Homo sapiens: one gene and its partner. The protein of the gene in region 1 purifies or fractionates together with the protein of each later gene. This does not show direct contact. Each region holds a gene or a part of one and is shown on either strand. Other genes may lie near its edges.

Region 1 (3,928 bases):
GCTTTGAGTTGTCCCACCTTTTAGGACCAAACCAATGTATTTCTTAAATGTATTTGATTGATGTCTCATACCTCCTTAAATTGTATAAAAACAAGCTGCACCCTGACCATCTTGAGCACATGTACTCAGGACCTCTTGAGGGCTGTGTCACAGACCATGGTCACTCATGTTTGTCTCAGAATAAATCTCTTCAAATACTAAAAAAAAAAAAAAAAAAAAAAACCTCCAGAATTTTACTTCATTCCTGGAAAGTCCCATAGATCTAGAGCTAGGAAGAAGAATTATGTTGAAAATCTTTCCTGGAGATGGGTCAAAGTATTTTTGTATAATTAGAAAAAGAAAAGGTGGGGGTAACATGAAGATATGAACTCTGTAATTGACAGTGCTTTCACCAGCACCCAAATGGTGTCCTTATAAATATCATGGCTATGTTCTTATAACTAAACGTGCATGATTCTTTCCTTCTCCACTTGGTTATTCACACCGAATCCTCTATTCGGGGTGTGGTATGCAGAATAATGTCCCCCGCCAAAGACGTCCACGTCCTAATTCCAGAGACATGTTACTTTTACGTGGCAAAGAGCAGAGACTTTGCAGGTGTGATTAAGTCAAAGAGCTCTACACAAGAGGTTATCCTGGATTATTCAGTGAGTCAATGTAATTATAAAGTAGAAGAGGGAGGCAGATGAAAGAAATGTGAGTAACTCAATGGGAGAAGGCCTCAACCTGCTTTAGCTGGCTCTGAAAATGGAAGAAAAAGGCCATAAGCCAAGGAACTCAGCAGCCTTCATGCGGTGGAAAGGGAAGGGAAATGCAGTCTCCCCTAGAGCCTCCCAAAAGGAACACAGCCCTGCCGACACCTTCATCTTAGCCCAGTGAGACCAGGGTCAGACTTCTGACCCACAGAACTCTCAGGTAATAAATGTGTGTTGTCTTAAGGCACTAAATTCACAGTAATTTGTTACAGTGGCCATAGAAAACTAATACCTGAGGCTTGACCATGGTGGCAGAAAATTCTGTGAACATCTGGTTCCTTCCTGACTGGTACTCCGCATCAATCATTAGTTGTTTTTGAATCTCACTCCCATTTACTAAATAGCAGCAATTTGATTCCCAAGAACAAAGAAAGAATCTGAATCTCCTAAAATGTTCCCATACTCATAATACCACTGAGTCCTTACAGTCCTGCTAGAAATAAAAATCCATAGCGAAGCTTAGCAATTTCTGGTTGCTAAAAGGAGATAATTTGGAACAGGGTGGAATCTCGCATTTATTAATGGGTTATCATTCATGATCAGGTTCGGACTCTAGGTAATGAAAGACCAGTAAAGCTTAGGGGGACATGGCCACCTGGTGCTGAATCTCTCCTTCCTCTTCCAGTCCCATCCCAGAGGGAGGCAGGTCAGGACTAGAGTAAGATTAACTTCCAGAAGAAAGGCTTTCCCTCAATTCCCGGCCTGGAGCAACCAGCCACCAGCTGAATCTAGCCCTGTGGACCCCGGTACCTCCTGCCTTAGCAGCAATGCTTTTGCCATTTCAAATCTGCCACTTCAAATACGGGGACTGAGTATTTGAGTCAGGAAAGAGTCCCTTGAGCTCCTTCTCAGCTTATCCAGAAAGATGCAGAAGGGGATAGACAATTGAAATCAGCCTGAGGCATGCAGCGTGGCTGGCCAAATGAGACTGCATACCCAGAAATGGCCTGGCACAGACTCTTTTTAGCAAGACTGAAGCTGCGCTTTTTGGAAATGAAGATACAATCTTATGTAAACCATATTAAGAGGTTGGTAGGCTGGGGCAGTGGAAAGAGACCTTGCTTGGGATTTCGGAGCCCTGAATTTTATTGTGGCCTCTGATACTGATTCACAGAGTCCCTTCAACTTGATATGCCTCAGTTTCCCTTCATGTGCTGTCAGGGGCTGTGTCAGACGACCTGCCCGCTTCGCTGCACTATGAGCTTTGCTCTGCTTCAGGAATCAATTGCTGACCAAAAAGAGAAATAGAATTGTTCGCCAAAGACCCAGAGTGTCTTGATCCTGGGGTATCCTACGGCTCCTCGGATCTCCTCCTGGTCTCACACCCGCATCCCTTACCTTCCAGTCTGAGGCAGCCTGAGGACTGTGGGAGGGGAGGAAAGATCACGCCCTGATATTGGATGGAGATGGAGAGATTCCAAGAGAACTAACAGCAGAGTCTCAGGAAGGGTTTGCTCACTGAATGGAGAGGTCAGGACTGGGACGGAGCTTAGCAGCAGCCGCTGGGCAGCAGCCCCTGCGCTCCCCAGCTGCCCTGTGCTCCTGGCCGAATCACAGGGGAGTGAGAGCTTCAGGAGACCCACATCTCTAGCCTGGACACATGAGTGATATTGGGCATCTCCCTCCCCTTCTCTGGACCTCAGTTTCCCCCACAGGATTCATCCGGGAGGGGCCTCTTTCCCCCGCACCACGGTCGGCCTGAGGCCGGGATGAAGCGCGCTTGGTGGATGCCCTGGGCTTCTCCTCGTTCGATGCTCACGCGTCCCTCCCGCCGCCCGCCTGTACCTGCACCGCGGGCGCGGCCAGGCTCGCTGGTCCCGGAAGCGGGCGCGCCGTCGGGAGCCGCAGGAGAGGGGCGGCGTCCAGGGCTGCCCCCGGGACCTCGGGTCTCCAGCCTCCGGAAGCCCGGGCGGGCCACGGGGTCGGGGGCGGCGGAGGGCAGCAGCAGCAGCGGCCAGAGCAGCAGGAGGAGTCCCGGGAGGCGGCGCGCGGGGGCCGGGCGCGGCATGGTGGGCTCCGTGGGCCTGGTGGTGTCCGTCGGGGGCCAGGAGCCCACGCGAGGCTCGGATTTAAAGGTCCCGCGGCCTCGGGCCCCGCCCCGCCCCGGGGCCTCGAGCGCCAGGCCGGCCCGGCGAACCCCGCCCAAGGCCAACAAGGAGCCTTGTCCGCGCATTCCAGCGGCAGAAACGGAATGTCTGGGCGAGGCGGCCAGCGGCGCGGTGGTCACCTCCCGCCCCTGCCCTAAGCCCCGAGCCGGCTGCAACTGGGTGGGCTCGGCTGCTGTCGCAACCTCCGTCCTCCCAGTAACACCGGGGCAGGGGGGGCAGCCATCCGCGGCTGCAGCCTGCCCGGCCCTCCACTCTCCCTCCCACCCCAGCGGGGCCTGCGCCCCAGGTACGGGATGGGGACCCCTGGGCTCTGCTTTCCCTTCTGCCACTGGTTTGCCCGACTGGGGCTGAAGATGAAACCCTGCTCCTAGCTCTACATTCCTTTCCTCAGCCAAGTAACCCAAGTTTTGCTGTGGGCTCTTGTTTAAAAAAAAAAAAAGAAAGAAAAGGCCTCACAGATTCTAGGGGCATGAATAGAAACGCTTTCATCCGAGCTTCAAATATCCACAAACATTTGAACTTATATTACCGGGAATAGAAAGTCAAACATACATTCCCCAGAGAGCCCCGTTAGCTGGAAGGACAGCCTGTACCAACACAGGCTTCAAAGGCTCTCCCGAGGCCCCATTTCCTCTCCGGAAGAGTTAGCATGGTACAGGGCTGGAGGCTGCCAGGGGACCCCCATGGAACTCACTGTCTGTGAGAAGGAGATTTGCATAAATGTGGTGTCTGTCTACGGGAATGTGGTGGATTTAGGAAAGAGATACTGACTGCCTGCGGAGACCAGGAAGACTTCTAAAACCAGGTGACATTTGAGCTGCGTCTTAAAACAATGGGCGCGAGTTCCAACAGAGCCTATCTGGTCGTCCTATTTCACTATTTTCCCTCTACAAGTGATCCTCCTCACACGATCCTAAACCTCACTTCTCATATTTGTACCCCATGCTGGTAGCAGCATTATACACAATAGCCAAGAGGCGGAAACAACCCAAGTGTCTCTCTTTGTGTGAATGGAAAAGCAAAATGCAGTATCTACGTACAATGGAATACTGTTCAGCCTTAAAA
Region 2 (4,257 bases), on another chromosome or scaffold:
GGTGAGGGAGAAAAAATTAGAGAGGTGCAAGTTTTAACAGAAAGGGCTAATGCAAAATGGTCTATTTATTTTTCCTCAAGCCTTTCCCCTGTCCTCACAAGCTAGCTGGGGGAAAAAGGGAGAAATCTCCTGAAGAATATGGAGCATCCAGCTTCCCGAGCATTGTCTAAGAGAACCAGGATGGAGAGTCCAGGCAACATCTCCATGGTTGGCTTGTCTGGCGGAGTAAGCTGTGCCCTCGGCGCGGGTATCTTCAGGAGACAGAGCTCCTGGCTGCAGCGAGCCGGGACTTGCCGCGCCCCGGGGCTCCCTCAATCAGACCCAGCCAGGCAAGCGCGGCCACATAGGCAAGCGCGGCCACATAGGCTAGACGCACTATCTTCTCCTCTACCCCGCGCCGCCCTCCACCTCGGAGCGGGGACGTACGGTGGTGGCGGTGACACAATGCGAGTGAGTGGGTGAGTGTGTTTTCGTGTTTGGGGTGGAAACGTAGGCGGGGAAGAGAAGGAGGAGAGGGGAGTGCCTGCAGTCCTTCCCCCTTCCCTTCCTGCTAAGAGATCAAAGTGCAGAGGAAATCCAGACGGGAAATGAGAGAAAGGAAAAACAGCAGCCGTGGAAGCACTCTCTTTTTTATATCGCTGGAGACTCGGCCGAGCAACTACTGGAACCATTACCATTTCTTAACCTTTAGTGGAGTGGCTGCCTTTGCCTATTAACTGGAAGGGCACTTTGTAAACGCAGGCGAGGCACACACCTACACACACGCCTACACGCTGGGGGAAAATAACCACATTCTGGGGGACGGAGGGAGGCCCAGGCAAGGCGCGGCCATGGATCTCTACTGCCAGAGCTGCGAGGGCATCTGGCCAGCAACACCCGGCTTCTTGGGCGAACAGTCGCCCAAGAGTCCACAATTTTCTTGTGACTCAAATAGATGGATAGGTGCATGGATGGATGGTGCAGAATATTCATACTCTGTCTAATCTCAAGTGGACTGGAGTCAACGCATTTTTAAATCCATCTACCTTTTTTAGAGGCACAGCATTTAAAACCCTGTAGTTCACTCAGCTTTCCACTTGAAGCTGCCTGCAGAGGATTCTATTACCCGCGGATCCCTCACAAGGGGCCGCCCGCATCTGTGAGCGCAGGAGTGGCACAGCTCCCCCAGGCACAGCTCCCACTCGCCTCCCCACACACCCTGCTGCCCCCGCTGCCCTTTTCCGGCGACTACTTCAGCCCCGGCCAGCGGTGAGACCCAGGTCAGCACAAGGGTTTGTATGGACAAGCTGCACCTCGCAGGGGACCTGGAAGTCGCCTAAACTACTCCAGCAGGACACTCGTCGAAGTCCTGCGTTTTCTTTTAAATGCTTTTTTCTTTTTAATTTAATTTGATTTTTATTTTTCTGTTTTTATTTTTTCGTGCAATTCACAGAAGGCATCACCCTACAAGCTCTCACAACTTTTCCGCTCCTGTGCGGGGACGCGAGGGGTGGCTTGCCCCGCACTATTCCCCATTACCAAGAGTTAACACTGGTACTCGGAGGGGGTGCGCAGCTAAGCTCCAGGCCCCTGGGGTCAGACTAGGAGAGGCGGGTTCCTGGGGTTTGCTGTAATCGATGCTGCTCCTCTGGGATGGGGAGGCAGGAGAAAGCTGAAGTGACCTGTGAGACTCCTCTCCACCTCACCCGCGGCCAAAACGCCCAGCGCCGGGTCTGGGTTTGCGAACGGCTCAGCCCAGGCCCTGCGCCAGAGCACCGCACCCGGGGGCGGACGGCCCTGCAGCTCCCCAGCCTCTTCCCGCATCAACTAGCTGACGCCCGGGCGCACTGGCTTCCCCCGCTCCCGCCCGCACGAAAGCCCTGCCCGACGTCTGCAGTCAGCATCGCCCGCACTGCCTAGGGAGGGTTTGCGCCGAGACCCAGTGGCCGAGTGAGCCACAGAGTCGCTGGTCCTGGGGACGCTGTCTTCTACCGCTCCCCACCGTCCTCCTCTTTCCTGTATCTCACCCCGGTACCCCGCACCCTTCTCCCCGCTCGGCCCCGCGCACTCTGCTCAGACTTTACAAGCACTTTCTCGGGGCACCCAGGACTCGACGCCTCCTCCGCGCCGCCAGCGGCGCTCGCCACCCTTGGCACGCCGGAGGGACCGCCTCCGGCCCCCTGCGCGGCGTTTCTCAGGGGACTCCCAGCCCATCCCTCACCCAGCTGTCCGGGTCCCGACGCCTTACCTTTGCCGAACTGGGGGACACCGAGGCTGAGCCCGACCAAGAGCCAGACGGCTACCGAGCGCTTCATGATCCCGTCTCCCGGACGTGACCCCGGCTGGTCAGGGGTCGTCGCGGAGGGCAGTGTAGCCGAGGTGGCAGCGCAGGGCAGCAGCAGACTCCGCCCCTACTAAAGAATTCAAGAAGACGTTCTCTTTCCTCAGCGCTTTGTTAAACAAATTCTTGGAGAGGGCGAGAGTGGTGACTAAAGAGAGGAGCCTTTCCTCCCCTTTTGCCTGCGCTCCGGCGCGCGGAGGTGGGTGAGCTCCGGGGAGCCGCCGGCGGGCTCAGCCCTCCGCTGCGGGTGGGTCCCGGCAGAGGCGCGGCGGGCGGGGCGCGGGCTCCCGCGGCCGCCCCGGGTCTGCTGCGCGGGCAGGCAGACCCACCGGCAGACAGGCGGACCGGGCGCTCGGCTGTCGCTGTTCTCCGCGCGGCGGCTGCGGGGCTTCTGACTTGGAGAACAATGAAGCGTGAGCTGGAGGGGAGCGAGCGGGCCGCCGGGAGCGCACTGTGTACAAACAGAGGCGGCGTGCGTGTGAGTCTGAGCCTGGCAGGCGCGCTCCCCACTCCCCCGGCGCCCGCCCGCCCTCCGCCCGCCCTGTTATTCACTCCCCGGGTCTCCCCCTCCTCTCTCTCTCTTTTGCTCTCTCTCTCTGTCTCTCTTTTGCTCTCTCTCTCCTTCCTCCCTCCTCCCCTCCTCTTTCAGCTCCTTCTGCTATAAGAGAAAAGGGAGACAACTGCAGCCACACCCTAGCACCTAGCACCTGCCACCACCTCTGAAGTTCCTGCATTGCCTGTACCTTCTCCGCACATGCTGGAGACTGTGGGGTTAAGAGCTGCACCCTTGCTGCCTGAGAGTCCCTTGGATTCCAGCACTGACTTTATAATTAACCACGTTAAGGATTCCCCTGAACTTCCTTTCTCAGTATAACCAGGAACAGAAGTTAAGAGATTTTGAAAAGTGACTCTTGGGGCACAAAACTGCATGAGAGACAGAACCCTGCAAAGTGAATTGCCCCGTATTTCTCAGGAACTGCAACGTAGTCAGCAACCAGACCCTAATCAGCTAAGACAGGGCTGCTCTGCTGCTCTGTCTACAATTTAGTTAGCTCCAGGGCTGGGGAGAGAGGGTTGTGGGCTCATCTGTTCACGGGGGCAAAAGGGTGGAAGTGAGTAGGAGACATGCATCTCGTTAAGCAGGACATCTGTTTCAGAGAAGAAGTGGGGCAAGTTTGGGAACTGTGCAAGAACATAAAGGCAAAGACAGACCCTTGAAGCATCACTAAGGTGGATCAAATTTTCTTTCTATCCGCCAAAATAAATGGACTGGTTTTTGCAGTGGAAGTGATTGAACCAAAAATACAGCTCATGGCTTACAATTGTGCTTTCTTCTCTGTTTTTCGGTTAGAATGATTGCTTATTGTACATGGATCCAATTCCAGCAGTTACAGGTACCAAAATGAAACAGGGCTTCTTTTTTCTTTTTTTTCTTTTTTTTTTCTTTTCCTTTTTTCTTTTCTTTTTTTTTTTTTTTTGTCTTCTAGAGAGGGAGGTAGGGAGAGAGACAAACACAGAGCTAGAGAAATTGAAAGAGAAACATTCTCGAAGGCAAAGAGTTGAAAGGTGAATCTACTAAGAAAAGAATAACAGAGTGCAATTAGCCATGGAACTACATCTCCATCTGCCTCCTTTAAAGGATGAGTCCTTTAAAGGTGAGATGAGTCCTTTAAACTTAAATTTCTACCTTCCTTTTCAAATTTTAAGTGAAATGAAGAATGCGAGGTGAATGGAACCGTAATGCTGAATACTGCTAGGGAGGGTTTAAGGTATTGTATAACTGACAAGCAAACAACGGAAAAAAGAAAGAAAGAAAGAAAAAAAAGAACACCTTTCAGAAAGGGTTTGTTCATATCTCACGATTGGTGGGAGGGTTAAAACACATTTTTTAAAAAATCACCTTGCTAAGAGAATGAGAGAGATTCATTTATTTACTG

The links. Proteins that work in one complex are often made in the same cells at the same time.
Region 2: the proteins of MATN3 (region 1) and EDIL3 purify together in Homo sapiens (affinity purification with mass spectrometry; one large-scale study listed by BioGRID and IntAct). This does not show direct contact.

Annotation. Positions count from the first base shown.
Region 1 is NC_000002.12:20,009,869-20,013,796, forward strand, and holds the start of MATN3 (matrilin-3 precursor), read right to left. Parts: upstream 2,801-3,928; 5' UTR 2,764-2,800; coding exon 2,541-2,763; intron 1-2,540. UniProt on the Homo sapiens protein: Major component of the extracellular matrix of cartilage and may play a role in the formation of extracellular filamentous networks.
Region 2 is NC_000005.10:84,382,081-84,386,337, forward strand, and holds the start of EDIL3 (EGF-like repeat and discoidin I-like domain-containing protein 3 isoform 1 precursor), read right to left. Parts: upstream 2,801-4,257; 5' UTR 2,295-2,800; coding exon 2,228-2,294; intron 459-2,227; exon of another isoform or gene 342-458; intron 1-341. UniProt on the Homo sapiens protein: Promotes adhesion of endothelial cells through interaction with the alpha-v/beta-3 integrin receptor. Inhibits formation of vascular-like structures. May be involved in regulation of vascular morphogenesis of remodeling in embryonic development.